3 linked regions of the Homo sapiens genome follow. The protein of the gene in region 1 purifies or fractionates together with the protein of each later gene. This does not show direct contact. Each region holds a gene or a part of one and is shown in the gene's direction. Other genes may lie near its edges. The genes, in order: E2F6, POF1B and GLUD1.

Region 1 (3,656 bases):
GGGTAAAGAAAATTGGTCTCTAAGTGGACCCACACAATTCAAACCTGTGTTGTTTGAGGGTCAGCTGTATATTGGTACCATCTGTATTGGTGGTCTTAATATTTGAGAACGTGATAAAAACTCTAAGCTCACTGTGGAAAAACCACTTAGTTTGCATGTAGTATCAGCAGATACATCCCTTGAAATCTTAGACATACAGTTCTGGTATTTTCAGTTACCATGTCATAATTCCCAAATCTATAAATCTCCTTCAGGGTTTTCCAGCTGTCTACTAGACCTTCCTACTTAGGTTTCAAACTCCTATTAGTCCCCTCTCATCTGAGGTTTCACTTTTCTTTATTTCAGTTAACCTGTGGTCCCCCAAACTATTAAAATGAAAATTCCAGAAATAATTCATTAGTTTTAAACTGCTTGCCATTCTCAGTAGTGTCATGAAATCTTGAGCTGTCCAGTACCACCCAGCACCTGAATCTTCCTTTGTCCAGAGTTCCCATGCTGTCACTGCGCCCTGCCCTTAGTCGCTTAGTAGCTGTTTCTTGATTCTCAGACCAACTGTCACGGTGCTTGTGTTAAGTAGCCCTTATTTTCTCAGTAATGGCCCCAAAGCACAAAAGTAGTGCTTCCAGTATGCTTCCAGTAGTGCTTCCAGTATGCTGAAGAGAATTGATGAAGTGCTTCCTTTAAGTGAAAAGATCTAAGTTCTTGACTTAGTAAGGAAAGAAAAAAAATCTTATTCTGAGGTCGCTAAGATCTACAGTATAAGATATTTTGAGAGAGAGACCACATTCACATAACTTTCATTGTAGTTTATTGCTATAATTGTTGTATTTTATTATTAGCTGTTAATCTCTTACTATGCCCGATCTATAAATTAAATGTTATCACATGTATGTATGTATACGAAAAAATAGTATATATAGAGATTGGTACTGTTTGCGGTTTTAGGCATCCACTGGGGGTCTTGGAATGTAGCTCCCAGGGATAAGGGTGGACTACTCTATATCCAGAATTGAATTTATTACTCTATTGGTCAGGGCTCTCCAGAGAGACAGACCAATACTAACACAGATTTTGGTACCAGGAATGGTTCTGGGAAACAGAATATTAAAGATGAGTTTCCTTAATTGGGGTTTTTGGAATTGATTCTTTAATCTGATTAGAATCTAAAAATGCCAAGAGCTCTACTTCTAATAGTAGAGAGAGCACTGGAAGTCCATGACACAAACTGTTTATAGATATGCAAAATAAATGCCTTTTTATTCTAATTCACTGCTTATAAGAGGCAAAGAATTTAGTGACGCTATATGTGATATTTTCAAATATTTTTGGGAAAACAAGGATTATAATGACATTGGTTGGTTGCTCCTATTGTCTTTGGACAAAGTGATGAAAGAAAAGGATGAGCTCAGGGATTCAGTTTCATGGCTGGAGTTCCACATAAATGACCTAAAAGTTTCTAAGTGTGCCCTGGGTTAGAATCTTCTATCCTGTAGCCATGGGGCTGAAATTGCTGAAAATCAAACACAAGCCTTCATCATGTAACTGGCCAAATTACAATGGAAGTTGAACTCTTGGCCAGTCATGGTGGCTCATGCCTGTAATCCCAGCACTTCGGGAGGCTGAGGCGGGTGGATCACCTGAGGTCCGGATTTCGAGACCAGCCTGGCTAATGTGGTGAAACCCCGTTTCTACTAAAAATACAAAAAATTAGCCAGGCTTGGTGACGTGCGCCTGTAATCCCAGCTACTCGGGAGGCTGAGGCAGAAGAATCACTTGAACCCAGGAGGTGGAGGTTGCAGTGAGCCGAGATTGTGCCACTGCACTCCAGCTTGGGCAACAAGAGTGAAACTCCATCACAAAAATAAATAAATAAATAAAATAGAAAGTTGAACTCTCTTAGCCTCACAGAGCATCTACTGTTAAAGTGAGGGTATTGGTTGGGAAAGAGTGGGGTCCTGCAAGTTTGGATGGGATCATGTGGGAAGATGAGGCTGGACACATTGAGCCCCTAAATTCTGATGAGTCTTGTTTGCCAGAGGGGCAGTAGCATTTCCACCTACAGTGGTATCATCCTTTCCACCCCTGTCTAAGGGGATTAATTCTGCATTGCCTGTGGAGATAGTAATGGCCTCCTCTGAAACAGTTCCCGGACAAGACAGTGCTGATTCTCATCAGGACCCACCCCGCCACCCCTCTTTGCTTCTAGACCTATTACTAGACCCAAGTCCCAGCAGACCCCTAAAGGTGAGGTGCAAAGTATGACTCACTCCACTTCTGGTACCAAATCTGTATTAGGTTTCTGGTCCTGTAAGATTATAGTGGAGCTGAAAAATTTCTATCACCTGGTGACATTGTAGCCATCATAATGGTCATAGCACCAAACATTACCTTTTCTATGTTTAGATGCACAAATACCATTCTGTTAGTTACCGTTATCTACAGTATTCAGTCAGTCACATGCTCTACAGGTTTGTGGCCTAGCAGCAATAGGCTATACTGTATAGCCTAGGTGTGTAGTGGGCTGTACCATCTAGGTTTGTTTAAGCACTCTATGATGTTCACGCAACAAAATCGCCTAATGACGATTCTGAGAAGATGCATGATTGCATGTAGATATATGAGAGGGAATTTATTAGGGAAATTGGCTCATGATTTTGGAGGCTGAGAAGCCCCACAATAGGCTGGCTGCAAGCTGGAGACCTTGGGATGCTGGTAGCATGGCTCAGTCCAAGTCCATAGCATGAGAACCTGGGAGGCTGCTAGTGTAACTCCTAGAGTCCAAAGGCCAGAGAATCTGAAGTTGTTGTCCAAGGACAAACGGGAAAGAGGGTCCCAGAGGATCTGGACTTCTGAGAAGGGAGAAAATAGCATTGATTGGAGGTAGAACTTGGTCTGCATAATTGAAAAATAAGGAAAATTTGAATGGGTGAGAATGCAATAACCTTTCCAAAGACCTCTTGAAGGAATATTGCTCCCCAAAACAGAATTGGTGTAGAGAAACATCTGTATAGAGAAAGGTTTAACCAGCTTGGAGGCAGTGCTTAGCATTTTAGTCCCTAAACTTCATCTTTTATTTTTTTTTCCACCTTTGAAGCAGCTCTTCAAAGCTACACAATAAAGTATAGGTCTTTAAATAGGGGACTTGGAGCAGTGGTGAAATAGCTTGGAATTTGAAAAAATATGCTGACTTGCCCCAGAAGATGCTGGTTCCTAGAGAGCTGTATACTCTGTCAGGGCACAAGATCAGCCTGAGTGATTTTCATTTTGTAAGCCTCTGACTTCTCCATTCATTTTGCAGCTAGCATGCAAACAATCTGCCTATTTATCATCTTTTTTTTTTTTGAGACGGAGTCTCGCACCGTCATCTGGGCTGGAGTGCAATGGCACGATCTCAGCTCACTGCAACCCCTGCCTCCCGGGTTCAAGCGATTCTCCTGCCTCAGCCTCCCAAGTAGCTTTTATTACAGGTGCCCACCACCACCCCCAGCTAATTTTTTGTATTTTTAGTAGAGACGGGGATTTCACTATGTTGGCCAGGCTGGTCTTGAACTCCTGACCTTGTGATCTCCTCCCCCCACCCCGCCTCCCAAAGTCCTGGGATTACAGGCATGAGCCACCGCGCCTGGACTTATGTTTCTATCTATATGTCTGTATAT
Region 2 (3,656 bases), on another chromosome or scaffold:
TACCAGGGGTACAAAGAGGAGCTGGTAACATTCCTTCTGAAACTATCCCAAACAATAGTAAAAGAGAGACTCCCCCCTAACTCGTTTTATGAGGCCAGCATCATCCTGATACCAAAATCTGGCAGAGACAGAACAAAAAAGGAAAATTTCAGGCCAATATCCCTGATGAACGTCGATGCAAAAATCCTCAATAAAATACAGCAAACTGAATCCAGCAGCATATCAAAAAGCTTATCCACCATGATCAAGTCAGCTTCATCGCTGGAATGCAAGGCTGATTCAACATATGCAAATCAATAAACATAATCCATTACATAAACAGAATCAATGACAAAAACCACATGACTATCTCAATAAAGGCAGAAAAGGCCTTTGATAAAATTCAACACCGCTTCATGCTAAAAACTCTCAATAAACTAGGTATTGATGGGATGTATCTCAAAATAATAAGAGCTATTTACGACAAACCAACAGCCAATATCATACTGAATGGACAAAAGCTGGAAGCATTGTCTTTGAAAACCGGCACAAGACAAGGATGCCCTCTCTCACTACTCCTATTCAACATAGTATTGGAAGTTCTGGCCAGGGCAACAAGGCAAGTGAAAGAAATAAAGGGGATTCAAATAGCAAGAGAGGAAGTCAAATTGTCTCTGTTTGCAGACGACATGATTGTATATTTAGAAAACCCCATCGTCTCAACCCAAAATCTCCTTAAGCTGATAAGCAACTTCAGCAAAGTCTCAAGATACAAAATCAATGTGCAAAAGTCACAAACATTCCTATACATCAATAATAGACAAACAGAGGGCCAAATCTTGAGTGAACTCACATTCACAATTGCTACAAAGAGAATAAAATACCTAGGAATATAACTTATAAGGGATGTGAAGGACTTCTTCAAGGAGAGCTACAAACCACTGTTCAAGGAAATAAGAGAGGACACAAACAAATGGAAAAACATTCCATTGTTATGGATAGGAAGAATCGATATCTTGAAAATGGCCATACAGCTGAAAATAATTTATAGATTCAGTGCTAACCCCATCAAGCTACCATTGACTTTCTTCACAGAATTAGAAAAAATACTTTAAATTACATATGGAACCAAAAAAAGAGCCCATATATCCAAGACAATCCTAAGCCAAAAGAACAAAGCTGGAGGCATCATGCTACCTGACTTCAAACTATACTACAAGGCTTCAGTAACAAAAACAGCATGGTACCGGTACCAAAACAGAGAGATAGACCAATGGAACAGAACAGAGGCCTCAGAAATAATGCCACACATTTACAACTATTGGATCTTTGACAAACCTTACAAAAACAAGCAATGGGGAAAAGATTCCCTGTTTAATAAATAATGCTGGGAAAACTGGCTAGCCATATGCTGAAAACTGAAACTGGACCCCTTCCTTACACTTTATACAAAAATTAACTCAAGATGGATTAAAGACTTAAAGGTAAGACCTAAAACCATAAAAACTCTAGAAGAAAACCTAGGCAATACCATTCAGGACATAGGCATGGGGAAGACTTCATGACTAAAACACCAAAAGCAATAGCAACAAAAGCAAAAATTGACAAATGGGATCTAATTAAACTAAAGAGCTTCTGCACAGCAAAAGAAACTATTATCAGAGTGAACAGGCACCCTACAGAATGGGAGAAAATGTTTGCAATCTATCCATCTGACAAAGGGCTAATACCCAGAATCTACAAAGAATTTAAACAAATTTACAAGAATCAAACAAACAACCCCATCAAAAAGTGGCCAAAGGGTATGAACAGACATTTCTCAAAATAAGACATTAATGCAGCCAACAAACATGAAAAAATGCTCATCATCACTGGTCATTAGAGAAATGCAAATCAAAACCACAATGAGATACCATCTCACGTGAGTTAGAATGGCGATCATCAAAAAGTCAGGAAAAAACAGATGCTGGAGTGGATGTGGAGAAATAGGAACGCTTTTAGATTATTGGTGGGAGTGTAAATTAGTTCAACCAGTGTGGCGCTTCCTCAAGGATCTAGAACTAGAAATACCATTTGACTCAGCAATCCCATTACTGGGTATATACCCAAAGATTATAAATCATTCTACTATAAATACACATGCACACATATGTTTATTGCAGCACTATTCACAATAGCAAAGACTTGGAACCAACCCAAATTGCCCATCAATGATAGACTAGATAATGTGGGACATACGCACCATGGAATACTATGCAGCCATTAAAAAGGATGAGTTCATGTCCTTTGCAGGGACATGGATGAAGCTGGAAACCATCATTCGCAGCAAACTGACACAGAAACAGAAAACCACACACCTCATGTTCTCACTCATAAGTGGGAGTTGAACAGTGAGAACACATGGGAACATCACACACTGGGGCCTGTCAGGGGGTGGGGGGCTAGGGGAGGGATAGCATTAGGAGAAATACCTAATGTAGATAGATGACAGGTTGATGGGTGCAGGAAACCACCATGGCACGTGTATACCTATGTAACAAACCTGCACGTTCTGCACATGTATCCCAGAACTTAAAGTATAATAAAAAAAGAAAACTCTAGAAAAGAAGGAAAACTTATTGTATTTACCATATTTTTGCTTACAATGCTATATCTTCCTTCTTAATATTCCAAATTCTTTCTTTTATGATTTTCTTCTCTTTAGACAACTTCTTTTAGCTATTCTTTAAGGGTAGGTCTGCTAGTAACAAATTATTTTCATTTTCCCTCATCTGAAAATGTGAATTTCCCTCCATTCCTAAAGGATAATTTCACTGCATATAGAATTTACAGTTGACAATTATTTTCTTTTAGTACTTAAAAAATAGTATCCTAGTTCCTTCTGGGCTTCATGATTTGTAATGAGAAATCTGTTGTCATTTGAATTGTTATTCCCAATAATTAATGTTTTTCTTGCTGCTTTGAAAATTTTTAGTTTGTCTTTAGTTTTAAGAAGTTTGACTCTGATTTGTCTGGTAATGGATTTCTTTGGGTTTATATTGTTTGGGATATGCTCAGCTTCTTGAATATGTATGTTACCAGGTTTTACTAATTTGGGAAACTTCTCAGCCATAATTTTTTTGAATATTTTTTCAGCTCCATCCTCTTTCTCCTTTCCTTCCAGGACTCTGAACATGAAAGCTAGATATGTGGTGTACACCCACAAACCCTTAAGCTCTGTTTAATTTTTTCTAATCTATTTGTTTCTGATATTCAGATTATATACTTTATTTTATTCTATCTTTAAGTTCATTAATTCTTTCCTCTGTTCTCTCCATTCTGCTTTTTAGCCCACTCCTTGAGAGCTTTGTTGTTTTGGTTTGGTTTTTGTTTCTTTGTCTTGTTACTGTCCTTTTCAGTTCTAAAATTTCCATTTAGGTATTCTTTATGTCTTCTATTTATTTGCTGAGACTTTCTATTTTGTCATTGAGACAATGTGTTTTTACAGTCTCCTTGCAACTTCTTGTTGAAGTATTTATGATGGTTGTTTTATACACTTTATCAGATAATTCTAACATTTCTATTATCTTGATGTTGTCATCAATTAAGTGTTTTTTCTTATTGGTTGAGATTTTTGTTGTTCTTGGAATTATGAGTGATTTTCAATTGACCCTGAACATGTCTGATCTTGTTTGATC
Region 3 (3,656 bases), on another chromosome or scaffold:
TGCAGGCAAGATCTCTGAACTTTATGCAGAGGGTTCTTTTAAAAAAACAAAGTTGAATTTTTTTATTTCTTGGAATATTTTTTTTCATTGATTTCTCCCAAGTAGAGCAGATTCAAATCTCCTTTGTACCCTATGTCTTTTTTGTTTTGCTATAAGCTCAGTATTCCATTTCTACATTTTCCTTTCCTAGAACCAGTCAATAAATGACAAAAAAAAAAACAAAACAAAGTAAATCATGTGTTGTTGCAGTAGGAGTTCAAGGAAACCAAGGACAATCTTGTTTGTTTATTTGTTTTTTTGTTTGTTTTTTTTTTGAAACAGAGTTTTGCTCTTGTTGCCCAGGCTGGCATACAGTGGCGCGATCTTGGCTCACTACAACCTCTGCTTACCAGGTTCAAGCAATTTTCCTGCCTCAGCCTACCAAGTAGCTGGGATTACAGGCATGCACCACCTCACCTAGCTGATTTTTGTATATTTAGTAGAGACAGGGTTTTGCCATGTTGGTCAGGCTGGTCTCGAACTCCCGACCTCATGTGATCAGCCCACCTCGGCCTCCTAAAGTGCTGGGATTACAGGCGTGAGCCACCGTGCCTGGCAGACAGACAGTCTTGATGTGGGAACAGAGAAGGCTGGATAGGAGTTGGATAAGGCCATTTCAGATAAAGAGGGGGTGGCTTCACCCAAGGCAGGAAGTGGAACTGTGTGTAAGGGGGTCATGAGGACAAACTACATTTGTAAATAATGAGAAATAAGGGCTTGTGACAGTAAATATATTTGGTCTCTTTGCCTGGTTCCCAACACAGAGCTCCTGAATGTCGCAAATTCCTGAGTGATAGGAGCATCTTTTGTTCTAACTAGGACACTCTTAATGGGCTTCTGGGTAGCTTCAAGGTGGGGACTAGTCACCAAAAAGACCAAGCCATAATTAGAAATTTGGAACTTTCAGTCCCACCCTTTGACCTCTGGAGATTGGAAAGGGGCTGAAGATTGAGTTTAATCAGCAATCAGTCATGCCCTCATAATGGAACCTCTATACAAACCCTAACTGATGGCTGGAGTATGGGGAGAGTTCAGAGAGCTTCCAGGTTGGTGAATGCATCCATGTATGGGTAGGGTGGTACCCTCCAAATTCCAGGGGAACAGAAGCTCCTGCAGTGGGGACATTCCAGACATGGCCCTGTGTACCTCTTCATGTTGCTGTTGATTTGTATCCTTTACATAAGTAACGTTTCCCTGAGTCCTGTGAGCCTTTATAACATTATTGAACCTGAGGAGGGGGCCATGGGAACCCCCTGGTTGGTAGCCAAGTTGGACAGAAGTGTGGGTGCCCTGGGCACCCAAGACTTGGAACTGGCATCTGAAGTAGGGAACAGTCTTGTGCGACTGAGCCCTTGAGCTGTGGGGTCTGTGCTAACCCTGGTAGTCAGTGTCATAACTGAATTGCAGGACACCCAGTTTGTATCTGCAGAGAACTGGAGAACTGCTTAGTGTGGAAAACCCACACATTTGGTGTCAGAAATGTGTGAGAAAAAACAATTTTTTCCTTTTTTTTTTTTTTTTTTTCTTTGAGACGGAGTCTCGCTGTCTCCCAGGCTGGAGTGCAGTGGCGCGATCTTGGCTTACTGCAAGCTCCGCCTCCTGGGTTGATGCCATTCTCCTGCCTCAGCCTCCTGAGTAGCTGGGACTACAGGCGCCCACCGCCACGCTGGCTAATTTTTTTTTTTTTTTGTATTTTTAGTGGAGACGGGGTTTCACCATGTTAGCCAGGATGGTCTTGATCTCCTGACCTCATGATCCGCCCGCCTCGGCCTCCCAAAGTGCTGGGATTACAGGCGTGAGCCACCGCGCCAGGCCAATTTTTTCCTTTTATGTTTGTTGGATGAATAATGATGAATCTAGCAGGGCACAGAAAGCTAGGCAGCAGTGGAACTGAGAATGAAGTTATAGTTAATAGCAGAGAATGAAAAAGAAAAGACAGATAAAACATTTTGAAGAAAGGACAGTAATGTATTCCCAACAGGTAGGATTTACAGGATGAAGGAGAGAAGAGGCAAAGATAACCACAAAATTTCTAGCCTGAGAGACTGGTAGAAAAAAATGGTGGTATCAGGGACAGATGGGGTTATTAAGGAAAAGGATTGGATTTTTAAAATAAAGAAGATCTGGTGTAAAATTATCCTTAGGGAAATTGGAAATCCAGGCACGTACTTCTCTCCATCATGCCCTTGAATAGTGCAGTCCCTCTGCCTGTCCATGCCTCACTTCCCCCTCCCTAGGATTCCTCTGCCTCTCTTAAGACCCATCTCAAATTATCACGTAGACTTGTAAATAATTTATATGAAACTGGATAGCTGAGGTTTCAAGCCTTTATCCCTTTGAAACTTTTTAATAACAAGTTATTGTTACCTTTTACTAAATCCAACTTTATATTCACCATTTTAACTAGCATCATTTCCGATTCCAAGACCTGTTTGGTGTGAAAGTGCAGCTAAGTTACTGTTAATCAAGATCAGAATAAAAGAATCTACCAAGAAAAATTAACAAAATCCCCCTTTTAATGTATAATCTTCCATCTGTCAGGCTGTAAGTTAAATAACACAAAACAAAGCTGTATGTTTTATGGATATGTACATATATAATTGCAGGGAACATGATTTGGAAGGATATACACTTACATTGCTAAGAATAGTCACCCCTAAGGAGAAGACTGGGGTCATAAGTGGAAGTCAAGGGAGTCTTCAGCTTTCTTTTTGTATTTAAATTTTGATAGAAATACATACATATGTGTTATAATTTTAAATTTTTAATGAAAAAAGTATTCTTCCGTTTTTTCTTTGATGTGTCAATAGGTTATATTTTTCTAATATCAGCTAAACATTTGCTTCCCAGAAAGCTTAGTTACCTCTTCAAAATTTATTCAGGTTAAAATAAAAGATTTAGACTGGATTAAAAATCTAAGATGGTATTTGCCTACTTTATACAAAACAGTACATTGATGCTGCTAAAGCAATTAAAGTATAATTTTTCTGGTTTTTTTTTTTTTTTTTGGAGACGGAGTCTCACTCTCTGTCGCCCAGGCTGAAGTGCAATGGTGCAATCTCCACTCATTGCAACCTCGGTCTCCCAGGTTTAAGCGATTCTCCTGCCTCAGCCTCCCCAGTAGCTGGGATTACAGGTGTGCACCACCACGCCCAGCTAATTTTGTTGTGTGTTTAGTAGAGACAGGGTTTCATCATGTTGGCCAGGCTGGTCTCGAACTCCTACCTCAAATGATCTGCCCACCTCAGCCTCCCAAAGTGCTGGGATTACACGCGTGAGCCACCACGCCCAGCCTAAAGTGTGTACTTTTTCTTAGCTCCTATATGCAGTGCTCCTTCCCATGCTGAATGTCTGAATTTTTATCTGAGACGTAGTATTTCAGGTGGTCATTACTTGTGGGTGGTCATTGAGAGTTCCTCCCTGCTTCTAACCTTCCTCTCTTCATTTTAAATTAAGTTACGCTACATTATTGTGGGTTAGAAGGTACATTAATATTAAGTGAAAAAATATAATCTGATGAGTAAGTGGCAAGAGTGTTAACTTATAAATATTAAGAGTTGTTCTGAGGCATTTTTGCTTTTCTGGTGGTTCTGTGCTTCTGGTAGAACTCTTGGTTA

Evidence for each region.
Region 2: the proteins of E2F6 (region 1) and POF1B purify together in Homo sapiens (affinity purification with mass spectrometry; 2 studies listed by BioGRID and IntAct, with this or other methods). This does not show direct contact.
Region 3: the proteins of E2F6 (region 1) and GLUD1 purify together in Homo sapiens (affinity purification with mass spectrometry; one large-scale study listed by BioGRID and IntAct). This does not show direct contact.

The regions. Positions count from the first base shown.
Region 1 is NC_000002.12:11,459,570-11,463,225, reverse strand, and holds part of E2F6 (transcription factor E2F6), read left to right. Parts: intron 1-3,656. UniProt on the Homo sapiens protein: Inhibitor of E2F-dependent transcription. Binds DNA cooperatively with DP proteins through the E2 recognition site, 5'-TTTC[CG]CGC-3'. Has a preference for the 5'-TTTCCCGC-3' E2F recognition site.
Region 2 is NC_000023.11:85,310,122-85,313,777, reverse strand, and holds part of POF1B (protein POF1B), read left to right. Parts: intron 1-3,656. UniProt on the Homo sapiens protein: Plays a key role in the organization of epithelial monolayers by regulating the actin cytoskeleton. May be involved in ovary development.
Region 3 is NC_000010.11:87,084,740-87,088,395, reverse strand, and holds part of GLUD1 (glutamate dehydrogenase 1, mitochondrial isoform a precursor), read left to right. Parts: intron 1-3,656. UniProt on the Homo sapiens protein: Mitochondrial glutamate dehydrogenase that catalyzes the conversion of L-glutamate into alpha-ketoglutarate. Plays a key role in glutamine anaplerosis by producing alpha-ketoglutarate, an important intermediate in the tricarboxylic acid cycle.